2 linked regions of the Homo sapiens genome follow. The protein of the gene in region 1 purifies or fractionates together with the protein of each later gene. This does not show direct contact. Each region holds a gene or a part of one and is shown in the gene's direction. Other genes may lie near its edges.

Region 1 (3,500 bases):
TGCATCTCGAGGTGGAGGAGAGAGAAGTGTCAGCTCATTCTTGACTGTAAACACATCTCAGTTCCCACGCTTCTGATCATGTTCTTGTGGCAGCCCCCACCCCCATCCCCTTCTCCTGTCCAATCCCCTGGCAGCTCCCCCACCCCATAAGAGAGACTTTTAAAAAGAAGATACAGAGCCCCTGGGCTTCCCATCTGGACTTGGGAAAGAGTAGAATCATGGGGAGTCCTCTGCCAGCAGCCTGGATTTGGATCCCAGCTCTGACACTCCTGGCTGTGCGGTCCTGGTCAGGTTTCTTACCCTCTCTGTGCCTGCTTCCTCATCTCTGAAGTGGGCCATAACACCTACTACAAGGGGTTAATGTAAACTTTAAATGTGATGATCCACGTAAATCTCTCAACACCCTGCCTGTCGCAGCTCAGTGAACGATACGTGGGGTCACCTTATGATTCTCGGGAGGGAAGGTGTTTGAGTCCCTCAAACCAGAGGCTTGGAGGGTGAAGGTTGAGTAGGGGAACAGGAGGGGGCCTCTGCATGAGAAGAAGCAAGCCTGCAGCAGGGGTGCTCCAGGGTCCCCCTCAGTGAGTGCACTGTGGGCCCCCAGGGCAGAGCAGGGGTCCAGGAGTGGTCTCATTTCACCCCCTTGAGGGGTATATGCAATCTCTTGGGTATATGCAATGGGCCCATTGCTGCTGTGGCTGGAAGGGGTTGGGGGAGCATGGGCCAGGCTCAGGTGCCCTGCCCCTCAGGGACAAAGGCTTAGATGGGAACTAGCCTGGAGGCCAGGCTGGGGCTCTGGGCTCCTGGTCTGGCCTGTGTTCCCTTCTCAGAGGCAAAGGATGGTCAAGCCAAAACCTTCCTCTTCCTGCCAGGACCCCCATCTCATCTGTCCCCTCCCGGGGCCACCCACTGATCTCCCCTGACCCCACCCTGGCTTCCAGCCCCTGGGCTGACCAGCTGATGCCTCCTCCGCACTCTGGCCCTACCCTGAGGACCTTTGGGAAAACAGAACCTACCCACCCTTCCAGCCAGCTAACCTCCCAGCCAGCCAGAAGTGGGTGGGGATGAGAGTCAGCTCCTCCTCATGCTCCTCAGTCCTTCAGTCCATCTCAAAGTCCCCCAGGTGAACCGTGTCCTCTAGAAGTTGGCTGGGAGGAGGTGACAGGGACAGGACTTGGGTGGGTAGGGGCTGACAGGAATGGGAGGAAGGACCTTTTCTCGGCCCAACAACAGCTCAACCTATATGGCACTTCCTCCCTGGGCCTTAACTCGACTCCTTCCTGCAACAAGTTTTGTCCATGCCACCACGCCATAGGCTCTGTGAACAGATCCAGGGCAGAAGGATGGCTGGGGAGTCCTTGTGTGTCTCAGGAGATGAGGCTCACCCAGGGACAAGGGTGATGAGCCTGGCTTCAGACAGACTGAGCTGCAGTTGGAGCACAGGGGCCCCACGCCAGGGCCAGAGCTGAGGGTCAGGGAAGAGGGGAGTGTGGAGACCGAGAGATGAGGCAGAGGCATATGGAGGGCTCGGGGTCCTGACCAGGGCCCTGGCTGCCAACCACACTGAGGGAGAGGTGGAGAGAAGGTTAGCTGGGGCTAGGCAGAGCGATCCCTGGAGTGGGCATTGGGCCTGGGAAGATGGCTGGAGCAGGGCAGGGTGGGAGGGGATGGTTTGGGGACATTGGGAGAAGGGATGACTCTATTTGGGAGTGGGGATGTGTCTGGGTGATGTGGGGGTGGAGCTCTGGGACAGACTCTGGGGAGTGTCTCTAGGGCACTCCTGACTGTGGCCTCTCCCCTTCAGAGGGGGCCACAGTGTCAGCTCTGGAGACAAGCTGCCAGAAAGAGGCTTCTGGTCATGGCCCTCCCGTATGCTACCCACTGCGTTCAGGATGGTGGGAGGATGGAGCCACCCCCGTCACGCTCCCTGCTGTCCCCCTTCCTAGCCAGGCTCTGTTTCCTGTTTTCAGGCTTCATATCCTGAACGCTGGGATCCCCCAGGACATTCCCTGGCCCCCAGGCCCCAGGTCCCAGGCCCCAGGGCTGAGCTGTGGGCAGGCCCCACCTGGTGAGTTACTTGGGGACTGAGGATGGATAGGAGGAAGCACAGAGGAGGCTAGAGGCTGAGATTCGCCCTGCGGGAAGTGTGATGGGGCATGCGGCTGGGCTGCACTGGAGGGGTGGGTAGACGCTGGCACTGGGAGGATAGGTGGGCCAGCATCCTGGATGAAAGGCTGGAGATTTGGCTGCTGGAGGGTTAAAGGTGAAGGAGGAACATGGGCGGCTGAGATGGGGTTAATTTAGGAGCCTAGACCTGGAGGGAAGGAGCGGCTGCCCTTCTTGGGGCTGAGAGTGGCTTTGGGGACCCTGGGAGTGTGTGGGTGTGGGGTGTGGGGTAGGGCCAGGCAGCAACATTCCAGAGATACTCAGGGGGGTAAGGGGCCAGCAACCGCGACCTTTCTCTCGTCTCAGAAAAATTATAAGCAGATGTGGGCGCCTCGGGGAGGCGTAGAGCAGGGAGCCAGAGCAAGTTTTGGGAACACGGAATGCAGACCCTGAAGCCGGCTGCGGGGATGGGCACTGCGGTAACTCATCCTCTCCTGAGCTCAGGAGCTGAGGCAGCAGAGCCGTCTGAAGTGCTGGGAGCCAGGGGTGGTGGGGATGGAGAGGACCCCATTTCCGAATGGCTGACAGGGCAGTCTGAGGGAGGCGGGAGCTTTTCCTTAAATGCAAGGCCAGGTTGGTGACCTCTTCAGGTGATGGCACCTAGAGTTGGGTGTTGTGGTGTGCTGGCTAAGGTGTCACAACTGACTCTGGGAGGGAGACTGGCCTTGGGTTTTAGTGTTTGCTAGTTTCTCTGGTGTCAATAACCCCCCATGCCTGATTTCAAGCTACTCACGTGACATCACTGAACATGTTGCTAGGAAGAGATGCATACAATTGGCTCTCTGGGCCCGTATGAGGTGGTTCCAGCACACCACTGGTTGGGAGGTCACCTGGACCCAGCCCCACTCCCACCATATAGAGCAGGAAACCCCTGACAGCGTTTCATCAGGCTGGTTTTGGCTTCTGCCTGCATATGTCCAGTGACAGGGAACTCACCACCTGAGGTAGCCGATTCTATTCCTGAGCCGCTCTGACTGTTGGAAAGTTCTTCCTCTGACTGAGCCCAAGGCTGAGTCCCTCATCACTTCCCCTCACTGGTTCCAGTCTCACACCTTGGTACAAATATCAAAGTGCCCTGGGTAGGGCCTGGGCTGGGGGCTGGGGATTCAGAGATGAAACGCACTGGGTCCCTGCCTCTGGAGGTCATGGTCAGGGAGCAGGCACTGGAACAGTGGGGTGGGGGTGAATGATACTGGGACCCCCAGAAGGAATGAGTGGGATCATCTGCCAATGAGCATCAGGAAGTGGAGGAGGGAAGGGGTGGCACCTGAACTAGACCTTGAAAGATGGGAACTCCAGGTGAAGAATGAGACGTGAGGGTGTCTAAGCAAACT
Region 2 (5,208 bases), on another chromosome or scaffold:
TGAAAAAAATCTCTGAAAATCTCTTTTTAAAACTCTGCTGAGTGTTTGACAGCCCTGCTGGGGCTGTTGCTCTCTGGTTTGGACACGGGATCTTTTCTGTAACAGATGGTATCCAGGTGCAGCTGAGGTCACTCAGGCCTCAAGACACAGATAAATTGGTGCTGCCTCTTTCCCATGACCTCAGGAAGCCCAGTGTTTTCCCCCAAGAAATCTGTGGGGACAATTCTTGGGCCTTCCTTCTCGTGAGTGCTTCTTGGCCTGAGCCCCTGCCCAGCAGATCCCTTGGGTCATCTGCCTCCCCCAGGGCTGTTTCCTCTCCTGAGGTCAACCCACTTGGAGGAAATGACCACATCCCTTGATTTTCCTCACCCATGTGAAGTTTCTGTAGATTGCCTGCAGGCCTCTTGCAAGATGCAGCTCCCTCTCCAAGATTCTGTTGTGGGCTGATAAAATAACTCTTTTCACCCTACCATACAGATTCAGATTTAGGCTGTAAATTGGAGTGGAGTTTCCAAGGCTTCTGAGGGAGCTCTTAGATACATGTTGCACGTAATACTCAGTTGCCGGCACAACTTCTGAACAGGACAGGGCTGTTTTCTCTAAGAGGAAACCTTTGCATTTGTATCAGTTAGCTTTTGCTACATAACAAGCAGCCCTAAGATTTATTGGCTCAAAATGACAGTTTATTGCTCTTCATGATTCTGTGAGCTAACTAAGCAGTTCTGGTTTGGGTCATCTAGGCTGGGCCTGAATAGGCTGGGATGGCCACACTCACATGACTGGCCATTGGCTCAGTGTCACCTGGGTGATGGGGATGAGCTGGCCCAGTGCAGCCATCATCCAGCAAGCTAGCTGAAGCTTGTTTGTGTGGTGGTGGTGCAGGGTTCCCAAGATCAGTCAGAGAGGACAGGGCAAGTTCAAGCCTTTGTTTGTGTAATGTCACTGATGTCCTAATGGACAAAGCAAGTCATACGACCAAAACCAAAGTCACTGTAGGGAAGGGATTCCTTAAGGGAGAGGAATGCAGGGAGCCATTTTTGCAAACGGTTGGTCGTAGGATTGGATGAAGCAAGTTGTCGTGAAGGTATGGGCATTGTGAACATGGGTGTTGGGGGCTGTCTCTCTTTCCTTTTGGACTGTCAGCCTGAGGGCAGGGCCTGCCCTGCTGCATCTGGAGGGCTCCATCTTGCAGTACATGGTGATGGCTGGTCCAGGTATTACCCACCTTCCTCCAGATGTTGCATCACCCCACCCCAGGTGTGACCCTCGCCAAGATGTTAGTAATGTTTGCTCCCACGTTCTCACATGCTCATATCCCCCTCGTCCATTACATGCTACCCCAGGTGCCTGAGAGTCCAGGGGCTCTCCCCAGGCTGGACACGCGAAGAAGGCTCTAAACCCTTCCTATTGATGTAGCTGATTCTTTCCTTCCGTCTCTGCTTTCTCTTTCATAAAATGTAAATTCATCTGTCTTCTTTGATTTTATAATCTGAGTTTCTTCTCTGTTTTCCCCCTACATCCCCAATGTAGCTTTTCATCCCCACCATCTCTGCCTCTCTTCTGTCTCAGTTTTCCTTTCTTCTTCTCTCTTTCCCTCCCCACCCCCATCTCTCTTCCTCATCTTGCACTCACACACACACATACAGGTCATGATTCTGCCACTCCAATGGCTTAAAAATTTCCCCCAGATTCCCTAAAGCCTCCTGAGAGTGGCAGAGGATTCTAGGGGGTGGGAGAGTGAGAGAAGGGTTGAGCAGGTGGGATTTGGGCCCCTGTTCCAGCTTGAATGACGACAGCCGCTCAGCTTTGATCTGTTTGCTATCTTAGGCTTCCACACACAATGTTGTGTGGCAGAGGTTTCACTGCCCAAAGGAAAAGTTCAAACAGTTTTTGTGTAACACAGCAGAGCTCATGACAGGCTTAGAGTCAACCAGTCTGCTGAGATTAGAGGAGTCTCAGGAGAGCCAGGGCCAACAGCTTTAAGCAGCTGTCTGTGCATTGCATATCAAACTGGCGTGCAGTCTCCCAGGCAAATAGGACAAGCGTTGGCGGTGGGAGGGTGTGGCTAGGAAGGAGAGATGCCCAGCATCTGGGCACAGCATAGAGCGTGTGGCTGGCAGTGAGGTCCACAGCTGGCACAGTGGTATGAGGACAATGACTCATTCTGGGTAAACGTCAAGAGACGAAGCAGCTACAAAGAGCCAGGCTCCTGGAAAATTAGGCAAGGTACGCTTTGGACAGAAACTGTGAGAGCTTCTTCTTGTGGTTCCTGTAGTCTATAACTGCTTTCTCAGGGCTTGGGGTGTGAGAGAAAGACACGTGCTACTCAGGCCTAGAGTGAAGACCAGGACCACGCCTACCATTGATCACAGTTCATGGTTGCCGAAGAACAGATTTAATTGTACCCAGGGCTGTGCACTGCCAATGCTGGCTTGTTTCTGTGTTATTGGCAGCAATTTTATGGAACCGGCTGATTCGACTTTAAAAGAAACTTGTCCTGGAAAGGGCCTTTAAGAGAGTACATTGTCAAGTGTTTCTTTTTTTGAGACAGAGTCTTGCTCTGTCACCCAGGCTGGAGCACAGTGGTGCAATCTTCGCTCACTGCAACCTCTGCCTCCCGGGTTTAGTGATTCTTCTGCCTCAGCCTCCCTGAGTAGCTGGGACTATAGGCGTGCACCACCACGCTTGGCTAATTTTTGTATTTTCAGTAGAGACAGGGTTTTGCCATGTTGGCCAGGCTGGTCTCGAACTCCTGACCTCAGGTGATCCACCCGCCTTGGCCTCCCAAATTGCTGGGATCACAGGCGTGAGCCACCGCGCCTGGCCTGTCAAGTGTTTCTTATCCTCTCCTGGACTGCAGACCTCTTTGGAATCCTACTGACTGCTCCTTTCACAATCCCCCAAAGCATATTCACCTCAAAGACTTTGCAGACAGTTATATGAGATCATGGTTGGTCCTGAACCTCGTCCTTAGAACCCTTTTCAGGTCAAGAAGTTATGATTTAGACCAGTTACCTCATTTTATACATAAGGAAACCGAGGCACAGCGAGGATAAGCAGTTTATTCAGGGTTTCACAGATAATCTGTGACAGAGCTGGGTGTTAGTCCTAGGTAGCAATTAACTGTAGAGTCAGAAATGCATTTGAATCCTGGCTCCCCCTCCTATCTCTTACCAACTCTGCAATTTAGGCAAGATACATAATCTTGTGCCTCAGTTTCCTCATCTGCAAAATGGAGATAACAATAGTGCCTACTTTGTGGGGAGTGCTGTGATTATAGGACAAATATGTGAGGAATTTAGAACCAATATCTTAATAAATAAATTGTAGCCCTTTTGTTTTGTTTTGTTTACAATCGTGAACCAGAGACAGATGTAGCTCTTATAGGTTCTATGTATTATTTTAAGAGCAGAGATACAAGTTGATTTTTTAGCCTGTACTTCTGGCTTAAGTGCAAGTTCCAACTGCAAGAACAAAGAACTGCCACTACCTAGCATTTTTTTTTTTTTTTGTAAATCAAGTAGAACTTATGGTACTGAAATATATGTGGTGATAACACCAATGTCTTAGCTTTTGTGGTTATTATCTGGGAATTTGCAGCTGCTCTTTATGAACTCACACATCTCTTTCCAAAGAGTGTATTGGTTAGCTTTTGCTGTGTAACAATGTGCTGTATTCATACCCTGAAATGTAGTGGCTTAAAACAATGGTCATTTACAGCCAAGTGTGATGGCTCACACCTGTAATCCCAGCACTTTGGGAAGCTGAGGCAGGCGGATCGTCTAATGTCGGGAGTTTGAGACCAGCCTGGCCAACATGGTGAAACCCTGTCTCTACTAAAAATACAAAAATTAGCTGGGCATGATGGTGGGTGCCTGTAATCCCAGCTACTTGGGAGGCTGAGGCAAGAGAATCACTTGAACCCAGGAGGTGGAGGTTGCAGTGAGCCAAGGTTGCACCATTGTACTCCAGCCTGGGCAACAAGAGCAAAACTCTGTCCCAAACAAACAAACAAACACCGATCATTTATTCACTCTTGTTTTGCTTGGCAATTTGGCTGGTTGCTTGGTAATTTGGGCTGAGTTCAGCTGGGTGCCTCTTCTGCTGGGTTTTTGAGCTTACTCATGTGGCCACAGCCAGCTGGAAGATTGGCTGGAGCTGGATGGTCTCTGGGATGGCCTCACTCACATGAATGGCTATTGGCCACTCATGTAGGGTGCCTTGGTTCTCCTCCATGGGCCTTCTCTAGCAGGCTAGCTTGGACTCATTCCCATGGTATTTGGAGAGCTGCCAGGAAAAGCAAGAGAGGGCAGGCCAACCTCAATGTTCAACCATTTTTCAAGCCTCTGCTTGTGTCATGTTTGCTAATGTCCTGTTAGCAAGGCACATGGTCAAGCCCTGATTCAGAAGACAGAGGAGGAGGCCCCACCTATTGATGGGAAGAGCTCCCTAATATTGTGGCTGTTTTCCCCCAGTATTCCACATGGAAGTTTAAATAAACAAATAAGGAGGAAATTATTAGTTCTAGAAGAAAGAATGAAAGAGACAGACAGACTTGGTGGCTCACGCCTGTAATCCCAGCACTTTGGGAGGCCGAGGCAGGTGGATCACGAGGTCAGAAGATTGAGACCATCCTATCTAACACAGTGAAACCCCATCTCTACTAAAAATACAAAAAATTAGCTGGGCGTGGTGGTGTGCACCTGCAGTCCCAGCTACTTGGGAGGCTGAGGCAGGAGAATGGCATGGACCCAGGAGGCAGAGCTTGCAGTGAGCCGAGATCACGCCACTGCACTCCAGCCCGGGCTGTGGAGCGAGACTCGGTCTCAAAAAAAAAAAAAAAAAAAAAGAGACAGAGGAGGGGAGATGGGAGGTTTGCTGTTTGCTGGTGAGTGGCTTGGCATGGAGTCTCTGTTGTCAGTTTAAAACTTCAGGTTGTGACCCTTAGGAGGTGTTTTCACTTCTCACAGTCCCTGGAGACCATCACCTCCAGGCCAGCCTGCCACCTGCCTCTGACTTCCACAGCTCTGAGACCCCCAGGGCCAATAGCCCTCCCTCCTCACTGGAAAGCTGCACTTAACAGGAGCTTGTGCCAGTGACTCAAAATAGAAATGTTTTGTGGGAGATGTTGACTGGTGTCACTGCGGGGTTTCACGTGACGGCGCTGCATCTGCTGTCCCAGCCTACTGTCTCTGTGGGATGTTTGTT

What was found.
Region 2: the proteins of PEAR1 (region 1) and ZAP70 purify together in Homo sapiens (affinity purification with western blotting, with the first as the bait; one study listed by BioGRID). This does not show direct contact.

The regions. Positions count from the first base shown.
Region 1 is NC_000001.11:156,900,218-156,903,717, forward strand, and holds part of PEAR1 (platelet endothelial aggregation receptor 1 isoform 1 precursor), read left to right. Parts: intron 1-1,970; exon of another isoform or gene 1,971-2,068; intron 2,069-2,393; exon of another isoform or gene 2,394-3,500.
Region 2 is NC_000002.12:97,726,227-97,731,434, forward strand, and holds part of ZAP70 (tyrosine-protein kinase ZAP-70), read left to right. Parts: intron 1-5,208. UniProt on the Homo sapiens protein: Tyrosine kinase that plays an essential role in regulation of the adaptive immune response. Regulates motility, adhesion and cytokine expression of mature T-cells, as well as thymocyte development.